Regions from separate parts of the Homo sapiens genome. Here all the other regions are reported to be linked to region 1. Evidence: microRNA targets listed by miRTarBase, many of them from high-throughput screens and not tested one by one. Region 1 holds a microRNA gene; each other region holds the end of a gene's coding sequence.

What was found. Region 1 holds the annotated microRNA hsa-miR-548ad-5p (AAAAGUAAUUGUGGUUUUUG, at 1,901-1,920, shown strand). A microRNA usually pairs through its seed, bases 2 to 8, with sites in the 3' UTR of a target mRNA and lowers its output. Matches are read on the target gene's strand: a 7mer-m8 pairs with bases 2 to 8, a 7mer-A1 pairs with bases 2 to 7 and ends in A, and an 8mer does both.
Region 2: miRTarBase lists USP53 as a target of hsa-miR-548ad-5p. Seed matches in the 3' UTR shown: 7mer-A1 at 1,655-1,661, 7mer-m8 at 1,593-1,599, 7mer-m8 at 1,539-1,545, 8mer at 1,199-1,206 and 8mer at 836-843.
Region 3: the mRNA of ACTN4 is a reported target of hsa-miR-548ad-5p. Seed matches in the 3' UTR shown: 8mer at 1,034-1,041.

What each region holds. Positions count from the first base shown.
Region 1 is chr17:67,470,206-67,473,461 of GRCh38, reverse strand. It overlaps MIR548D2 (microRNA 548d-2), which reads left to right and starts at 1,877; the gene lies at 1,877-1,973. All of the region lies in intron 1 of PITPNC1 (phosphatidylinositol transfer protein cytoplasmic 1), which reads right to left. It overlaps MIR548AA2 (microRNA 548aa-2), which reads right to left and starts at 1,973; the gene lies at 1,877-1,973.
Region 2 is chr4:119,292,459-119,295,663 of GRCh38, reverse strand. It overlaps USP53 (ubiquitin specific peptidase 53), which reads right to left. Exons shown (of 19, transcript NM_001371395.1): 19 at 146-3,205. The coding sequence ends at 2,453. Among named protein-coding and RNA genes, the nearest start is that of ARLN, 6.6 kb to the left of the region's middle.
Region 3 is chr19:38,729,171-38,732,396 of GRCh38, forward strand. It overlaps ACTN4 (actinin alpha 4), which reads left to right. Exons shown (of 21, transcript NM_004924.6): 21 at 104-2,419. The coding sequence ends at 262. CAPN12 (calpain 12) reads right to left here. Exons shown (of 21, transcript NM_144691.4): 19 at 1,937-2,053; 20 at 1,795-1,853; 21 at 1,022-1,708. The coding sequence ends at 1,682. Among named protein-coding and RNA genes, the nearest start is that of CAPN12, 14 kb to the right of the region's middle.

The sequences.
Region 1 (3,256 bases):
AGCTACTCGGGAGGCTGAGGCAGGAGAATGGCGTGAACCCAGGAGGTGGAGCTTGCAGTGAGCCGAGATTGTGCCACTGAACTCCAGCCTGGGCGACAGAGCGAGACTCTGTCTCAAAAAAACAAGCAGGCCAGGTAAAGTGGCTCACGCCTATAATCCCAGCACTTAGGAGGCCGAGGTGGGTAGACAGCTTGAGCCCAGGAGTTCAAGACCAGCATGGGCAACATAGTGAGACTCTATCTCTAAAAATAAGAATAACTTTTAAAATAATAAAAATACATTAATTGGCCGGGCACGGTGGCTCACACCTGTATTCCCAGCATTTTGGGAGGCCAAGGCGGGTGGATCACGAGGTCAGGAGATCGCGACCATCCTGGCTAACATGGTGAAACCCCTTCTCTACTAAAAATACAAAAAAATTAGTTGGGCATGGTGGTGCGCACCTGTAGTCCCAGCTACTCAGGAGGCTGAGGCAGGAGAATGGCATGAACCTGAGAGGCAGAGCTTGCAGTGAGCCGAGATCAGGCCACTGCACTCCAGCCTGGGCTACAGAGCAAGACTCCGTCAAAAAAAAAAAAATACCACATTAATTATGGTGCTGGTTTTAGCATATGTCCACAAATTCTTTGAAACCCCTCCCTGTAGGAGGCAGGGCCTAATCTCCCTCCCCTGAGTGACTCACTTCTAATGAATAGACGGTAAGCTTGTCCAACCCGTGGCCCAGGACAGCTTTGAATGTGGCCCAACACAAATTCATAAACTTTCTTAAAACATTATGATATTTATGCACAGACCTTTTTTTTTTTTTTTCTTTTGAGACAGAGTTTCCCTCTGTCACCCAGGCTGGAGTGCAGTGGTGCAATCTCGGCTTACTGCAAACTCCTCCTCCTGGATTCACACCATTCTCCTGCCTCAGCCTCCTGAGTAGCTGGGACTACAGGCGCCCACCACCACGCCCGGCTAATTTTTTCTATTTTTAGTAGAGATGGGGTTTCACTGTGTTAGCCAGGATGGTCTCGATCTCCTGACCTCGTGACCCACCCGCCTCGGCCTCCCAAAGTGTTGGGATTACAGGTGTGAGCCACCGCACCCGGTCCTTTTTTTTTTTTTTTTTTTTTTTTTTTTTTTTAGCTCAACAGCTGTCATAGTGTTAATGATGTATTTTATGTGTTGCCCAAGACAATTCTTCTTCCAATGTGTCCCAGGGCAGCCAAAAGATTGGACACCCCTGGAACAGAGTATGGAAAGGGAAATTAGCAGCTTACGGTGGGTAACTCTGGTAGACAACGCCTTAACCAAGTGATCAAGGTTAACTTCACCAGTGAGCAATCAGGTAGATATCATGTGCCCCCTAATATTATGTGATGAGAAGGCCATTTCACCTCTGGGGTATTCTTTCCCCAAACCCCAACTGCAGTCTAATGATCAGAAAACATCAGACAAATCCAGATTGAGGGACATCCTACAAAATACTTGACCAGCCCACTTCATAAATGTCAAAGTCATAAAAAAACAAGGAGAGACAGAGAAATTGACATAGATTGAAAGTGACTATTATGATATAATAATTAAGTGCAACATTATATCCTGATTAAATCCTGGAACAGAAAAAGGACATTAGTGGAAAAAACTGGTGAAATCTGAAGAAAGTCGGGAGTTTAGTTAATACAACTGTGCCCATGTTAATTTTTGAGTTTTGATAAATGTATCATAATTAGTACGATATTAACATTGGGGGAAGGTGGATGAAGACTACGGGGGGTTCTCTGGATTTGCAACTCTTCTGTAAATCTAAAGTTAACTTTAGGGGGTATATGATGTCAACCTGATTTAGCTAAAGTTAACTTTAGATTTACAGAATAATTGCAAATCCAGAGAGAGGGAAGATTTAGGTTGGTGCAAAAGTAATTGTGGTTTTTGCCATTGAAAGTAATGGCAAAAACCACAGTTTCTTTTGCACCAACCTAATAAAATAAAAAGTTTAAAAGGAAAAAAATCTCTCAAATGAAGACGTAGGTCCACACAAGGACTTGTATGTGAATGTTCATTGCAACTTTACTCAAAATCATCCAAAACTGGAAGTAACCCAAATGTCCATCAACTGGTAAATGAATAAACAGACTGTGGTATATCCATTCAGGGGAATGCTACTATGCAATAAAAAGGAACAAACTATTGATACATCCAATAATATGGATGAATTTCTTTTTTTTTTTTTTTTACATTTTTTTTTTTTACATTTTTTTTTTAATTTATTTTTTTATTGATAATTCTTGGGTGTTTCTCACAGAGGGGGATTTGGCAGGGTCATGGGACAATAGTGGAGGGAAGGTCAGCAGATAAACAAGTGAACAAAGGTCTCTGGTTTTCCTAGGCAGAGGACCCTGCGGCCTTCCGCAGTGTTTGTGTCCCTGATTACTTGAGATTAGGGATTGGTGATGACTCTTAACGAGCATGCTGCCTTCAAGCATCTGTTTAACAAAGCACATCTTGCACCGCCCTTAATCCATTTAACCCTGAGTGGACACAGCACATGTTTCAGAGAGCACAGGGTTGGGGGTAAGGTCACAGATCAACAGGATCCCAAGGCAGAGGAATTTTTCTTAGTGCAGAACAAAATGAAAAGTCTCCCATGTCTACTTCTTTCTACACAGACACGGCAACCATCCGATTTCTCAATCTTTTCCCCACCTTTCCCGCCTTTCTATTCCACAAAGCCGCCATTGTCATCCTGGCCTGTTCTCAATGAGCTGTTGGGTACACCTCCCAGACGGGGTGGTGGCCGGGCAGAGGGGCTCCTCACTTCCCAGTAGGGGCGGCCGGGCAGAGGTGCCCCTCACCTCCCGGACGGGGCGGCTGGCCGGGCAGGGGGGCTGACCCCCCCCACCTCCCTCCCGGACGGGGAATATGGATGAATTTCAAAAACATTGTGTTGAGCAAAAGAAGTGAGACACAAGAGACTACATCTGTATGACTGCATCTATAGGAAACTTTAAGAAAGGCAAGACTTTAGTGCAAAAGCAGATCAGTGCTTGTTAGGAACAGGAGTGGGGAATGTGGGGGGTAGAGAGAAGTAATTGACAGCTAAAAGTCACAAGGGAAGTTCTAGGGGTGATGAAATGTTCTGTATCTTGATGGGGCAGTGGTTACATGACTACAGTGTGTGTATATATATGTTAAAACTCATCAAGCTGTACACTTAAAGTGAGTTCTATTCTATGTTAGCTATATCACAATATGGCCAGGTGTGGTGGCT
Region 2 (3,205 bases), not on the chromosome of region 1:
TGGAGTTTAACTCCTAGGATCTCCTGTGATAACCGTTTATGATCAGTGAAATTCCAAGTACCCGCGACTTAACATGTCCCAAAATAATCCACGTTGGTGGGAGGGTGACACACAGTTCATGAATGCAAAGAGAAGTCCAATCATATAAACTTAAAAATCAGTTTATCTTAAAATTTTTTTGAATTAGAAGAAATTGATTTCACATGAAAATATAACATTCTGAAGGTAAGTATTTTAAACATTACAACTGTTGGCTGAAATATTTACAAAGTTATAATAAGCTTATAACTGGATGAAAGCATCTATAAAAATAAATAGGCACCCTAGATGTAAAACTTTTACATGAAATAAAATGATTAGTATATATGTATCAATCTGTATCTGGAGTGTTGAATCAACAAAAATAAATGGGCATTTTCTAGTTTGTGTAGTAGTACATGAGTCAGGAGGTTTCAACTGGACAGTACTTAAAAGAGGCAAAACTGGACATTTCTATTTGATATCTACAACTCAACTGAGTTGAAAAGACAAATGTCTGAGACTGCTGTTAAATACAAAAATTAGTTTAAATGTTTCAAATAATACATTTCCAACTCACATCTTAACCAAATAGAAAAAAAAAACTACACAAACTGTGAAAGCTATTAAAAAACTTGAAGCCCATTTTTCTAGTATCTTACAATGTTATAAAAGAAGAAAAACTTTGGTATTTTAAATACAGGTTTACAAACTTTACATTATTTACAAACCCTCCACACTAAAAAATTATGTTAAAAATAAGCTTTCTTAAAACAAAATTAATTTGGCATTCAAGTATTTCTAACTTACGAGAATATAAAGTAATGATCACTCACTATTATAGTTTAAAAAGGCTAGTAAAAACTATAGGCAGAAGATAAAATTTGGCCAAGACTTGGTAACTGGGTGAAGTTAGACTTTTATAAGCAATTATTTTCTGTTTAACAGTATTCACATTAAATTAGTTACAACATTTTAGAATGTTTTAACACGATTTACGCAATCAGTCAAGTGGCTACATTTACTAGTTTATTGAATATGAGGTTTATCCATTTAGCAATGTAAGGAAAACTTTAGTTCTGTTTCTCAGTTATCAGGAGTGAACATAAAACTATTCTAAACCACAATTAGTTTACCAGCATAGTACAAAATAAAATGACAACTAACGAAATAAAGCAATTAAAGTAACTTATTTTTACTCATAAGGTTACCATAATAATAAAAATTCCTTTAATTTTCAAAGCACTCTTCATGAAAAGTAGTTGGGGTAAAATTACTATTTGTTCAAAGTAGAATAAAAGGGAAGGATGCTCTAATTAAACATTTTATTAAAATTAAACTCTCTATATGAAAGGTAGAAATTTAATCTGGAAACCTAGATAGATTTTCAAATTCAGATAAAATGGGTTGACAACCTATAAGCAGGTAATATTACAGCAAAGAAAATGTAGGCAATTACAGTGACATTCCCAATAAGAGGGTGCCCTACATTAATTCCTAACACTGGTGGTTAGCAGCCCAAAGTAAACCAAACCAAAATAAAGACCTTTCACATTTCATATAAAATTAGAAAAAAAGTAACGAGATAAATAAATACACTAAAGTTTAAGTATTTTAACTTTTTAACTTACATGGCTAAAGTAGCATTTATGAATACCTATAATAGTCAAAGGCCTAATTTATCTTAACTAGATATTCTGAAGACAAAAATTCTAGGAGCAAAATTAAATTCCATCCGATCTTGAAAACTTACAAATTGTTAATCATATAAGGCTTTTTTTCCCCAAATGCTATCAAATTCATAAGTCATTTTTTTTAAAGACACTTAAAGGGATCATATGCAGTGACTATCATAGAAGTCAAAAACAAATGGGTGAAGCCCTTTTCTGGTTACCCATTAGAAAGTGCTTCTTCATAAAGCAATTCTTTGACAAAAAAGTACCAGGCTATGTATCACCTGGTACTTTTCAATTAGCATAGTTTATAATCTCCATACATGAGTACTGGTTAGTTTAATACTTCCCAGTCTACTGGCCACAAAATAGGGGGACAAATTTAATTTTTATTCAACTGTAGCATATGACAAATGAATTATTATATCTCCCTGATTTTCTATTTTTCACGGCACGCCAAGACTATTCAAAGGGAATTTCTAAAATATCTAAGATATTGATCATAAAATTATATATGTGTATACACATATACACATACATATGTATAGTGATTAACAACTTTAAAAATGCCACAGGCTTTAATTTTATGTATCACTAGGTTTGGTCAGTAGGTTCCTATTATATTTAAATGGCCTCTGAGAAGTAAAAGTTGGTCAGTTTTACCAGTTATCTATTACAATGTATGCTAGGTTTATATCTTTGTTCAGAAGGGCAGCTTGAACCAAGATTATTATGTAACACAGGTCTAGTCCTTTTTCACTCTAAGATAGTGAATTATTACAAAAGCCACTGCTCTCTGGAAAAGAGAGCTTGGGCCTCTGATGGTATTTCAATCTATATGTATCCGTCATGCAGCTATCAACTGAAAAATAGGTAGTTAATGAAACTGTCTCATTTGGACAGGTAGAAATAGAGTCTAGTTCTGGTTGGCAAAATGCATCAATGGCACCTGAGTTTGCCTGAAAATCGTTAGTTGAGGAGCTGGATGGACAGTTTGGTGTGTTGCCAAAACATTCTCTCACTTGAAATGTTTCTTTATGTCTTTCATCATTCATATGTGTACTCACTTCTAAACTTGGTTCTGAAGCTGTACTTAAACTGTGCTTCGGAAGATGAGAGGTAGCTTTAAACACCTCTGTAAGTTTGACATCAGGTGTAGATTCGCTTTTCTCTGACTGTGGCACACTGGTTATAGCATATTTCTTTGGTGGCAAAGGGGGTGGTAGATTCTGGCAAAAAAGTTTTGGCATCTGACACCCATCAGATCTGCTGGCTGACCGAATTATACATTCTGTGGATAGAGAGTTCTCAAAGTAACATTGATCCATGATATTTTGTTGCTGGATGAGAGGAGCAGTTTCTGGCTTTAACCCAACAGTTCTTAGGTGTGAAGACCATAATGAAGATGGTTCATTACTGTTCACTCTCTTCCCAGAAGCAGAGTTATCAACGTGAAAAGGCAAACCTGTTCTCTCAGAATTTTCTATATTAAGCCACTCAGAAAATTTGCATTC
Region 3 (3,226 bases), not on the chromosome of region 1:
CGAGGTGCATGGGGGCTGGCGAGAGGGGTCCCTGCAGTGGGAGGGGCTGAGGGGGCCAGTGTGTGGGTGGGGATGGCTCAGAGTCCCATCCTGCCTGCCCCAGAACTTCATCACAGCTGAGGAGCTGCGGAGAGAGCTGCCCCCCGACCAGGCCGAGTACTGCATCGCCCGCATGGCGCCATACCAGGGCCCTGACGCCGTGCCCGGTGCCCTCGACTACAAGTCCTTCTCCACGGCCTTGTATGGCGAGAGCGACCTGTGAGGCCCCAGAGACCTGACCCAACACCCCCGACGGCCTCCAGGAGGGGCCTGGGCAGCCCCACAGTCCCATTCCTCCACTCTGTATCTATGCAAAGCACTCTCTGCAGTCCTCCGGGGTGGGTGGGTGGGCAGGGAGGGGCTGGGGCAGGCTCTCTCCTCTCTCTCTTTGTGGGTTGGCCAGGAGGTTCCCCCGACCAGGTTGGGGAGACTTGGGGCCAGCGCTTCTGGTCTGGTAAATATGTATGATGTGTTGTGCTTTTTTAACCAAGGAGGGGCCAGTGGATTCCCACAGCACAACCGGTCCCTTCCATGCCCTGGGATGCCTCACCACACCCAGGTCTCTTCCTTTGCTCTGAGGTCCCTTCAAGGCCTCCCCAATCCAGGCCAAAGCCCCATGTGCCTTGTCCAGGAACTGCCTGGGCCATGCGAGGGGCCAGCAGAGGGCGCCACCACCACCTGACGGCTGGGGACCCACCCAGCCCCTCTCCCCTCTCTGCTCCAGACTCACTTGCCATTGCCAGGAGATGGCCCCAACAAGCACCCCGCTTTTGCAGCAGAGGAGCTGAGTTGGCAGACCGGGCCCCCCTGAACCGCACCCCATCCCACCAGCCCCGGCCTTGCTTTGTCTGGCCTCACGTGTCTCAGATTTTCTAAGAACCAAAAAAAAAAAAGGAAAAAAAACACAAAACAACAAAAACCAAAAAAAAAAAAAATCACAAAAACAAAAAAACTATAAAAAAGAAAGAATTAAAAACTTTCAGAGAATTACTATTTACTTTATTAACTTACGGATTTATTATATAAATATATATTCACCTAGCAACATATCTCTGCCGTCTCTCCTGCTCTCATAATGAAGACATAGCCGATTCTCTGCCCGGGCCCCTTGCTGATGCTCCTCCGGGTCTGCGTCGGGCGTGGGTCTCTGGGGACCCTCCAGAGGTGGAGGTGGGCTGATGGCCTGGCTGCCTGGTGGTTGATGGTTTTGCTCCCCCTACCTTTTTTTTTTGAGTTTATTCTGATTGATTTTTTTTCTTGGTTTCTGGATAAACCACCCTCTGGGGACAGGATAATAAAACATGTAATATTTTTAAGAAGGATTCCTGCAGCATCATCTTTTTTTATTTCTCCTGTGTCTGTCCTCCACCTTCTAGGAGAGCCAGGGCAGAGCTAGCACTGTCTTAAGCTGTCAACGTGGACTAGCTCGTGTCATCTGCTCGAGAAGGGCTGTCGCTGTTCTTGTTTCTGAGTGAGGAGTACGCAGGCCAGAGTGGTCACCCGGCCGTGAGCAGTGAGGGCCAGAGACTAGCCCCAGACAGGTGGATGCCAGAGAGAGTGGCACCCATGCCAGGCAAGGCCTAGGGAGGTGGTCTTGCTCAGCAACCCTGCCCTGAGCAGCAGGTGCGCCCATCCGGAGATCCTAGGAGAAGGTGGCCACCTCCATCCACTAAGGAAGAGAAGGAAGACAGTGGCTTGAGGCAGGGAGCTCGCAGGACAGAGCCTGAGCCACCCTGTCCCTCCCACCTGGCTCACCTGTCTGTGGGTCAGGCAGATGACCCCCTCACCCCCATCCAGGTGCTGGCTGCAGTGGCCTGTGCAGAGAGGGGCAGGGTGAGTGCCCACCAGTCCCCGTACCCCTTCCCCCCATGCCCCACCATGCCGGGGTGGTACTCACAGAAGATGCAGGTGAGGTGGGCCACACAGGACACGAACCGCTCGAAGTCCACACGCAGACGGCTATCCCGGTAGCGGCTGGTGAGGGTCTGGGTCAGCTGGTTGTTCAGGTGGAAGCCTAGGGGGAGGCTGCTTCTGAGCCCAGTGGCCCACAGGGAACCCACCTTGGCATTGCATCCCCACCCCACCTCCTCAGGGAGGACATGAATGCCACAGGGTGTCACACCCCAACTCTGCCCCATCCCGGCAGGGTGAGTACAGGCTGATCCCTTCAATCCTCTGGGCCTGTTTCCTCATCCATCAAACGGACTAAGACAGCCCCGACCCCATAGGGTGTGTGAAGACAGAACGCTCAGGACAGCGTCTGACACGTGACTCGATGTGTGGGTACTGTTACTCCTTAAATCCTGTGGGGCTTTCTCCTTGCCAGTGGGCACTGGAGGATATTTCTGTGCAGCAAAAAATATAGTCAATCCCATATGGAGTCAGTTTCCTTACAGTCTACCTCAGAGGCGATTTCTAAAGCTGAGAAACCATGTCTGCTGTGGAGTCTCATTGGAGGCTTTTAAAAACCCAAAACAATGGGTTCTTGACCCCTTCTGAGATGCAAGGTTGTGCCTGATGACCTTTGTCTCCCACACGGCCAGACAAACCCAGTTCCAAGTACCGTTTCATGGGCTTCTGCTGCTTCCAAAGCCCATCTTCACCCCCATTCTGTGTGTTCATTCTCTTCACAAATATCTACCAAGTAAGTGCCATTTCATGCTGTGCCCAGTGCCAGGTGCTGTTTTAACAGGAGGGCAGGTGGCCTGCAGCCTCTTCCTGCCCGTGTGACCTGCCCCAGGTCACTCCCTCTGGCATTCATCTGCCCTCGGGCATAGGGGTGGAGGCTGCCATGCCCAGGGCTATGGGGAAACCCAGCCAGATGGGGTGGAAGGACCCGAGAAGGCGCTGGAGCCCCTCAGCTGCCACTGCAGGAGTTCCCGTTTGAGAAATTCTCAAGGGCACTTTATCAGTTTCCTTCTTCCTGGAATAACTCCTGGCATGTAACAGGCACTCACTGGTGCCAGATGCGTGAACACAAGCCTGCCACCTGCCACCTGCTGTGAGTCCTTGCTCCCTCACCTCCACTCCTGTCTATCTCCGGCCCAGCCTCTCCCTCTCTGCCCCACGTCTCCCAATCCTTGGCTGTCTCTGACCCCATTTCTCCCCCTTTGACTTGGGCTTTTTCTTTTTTCTTTTTTGAGACGGAGTCTCGCTCTGTTGCCCAGGCTGGAGTACAATGGCATGA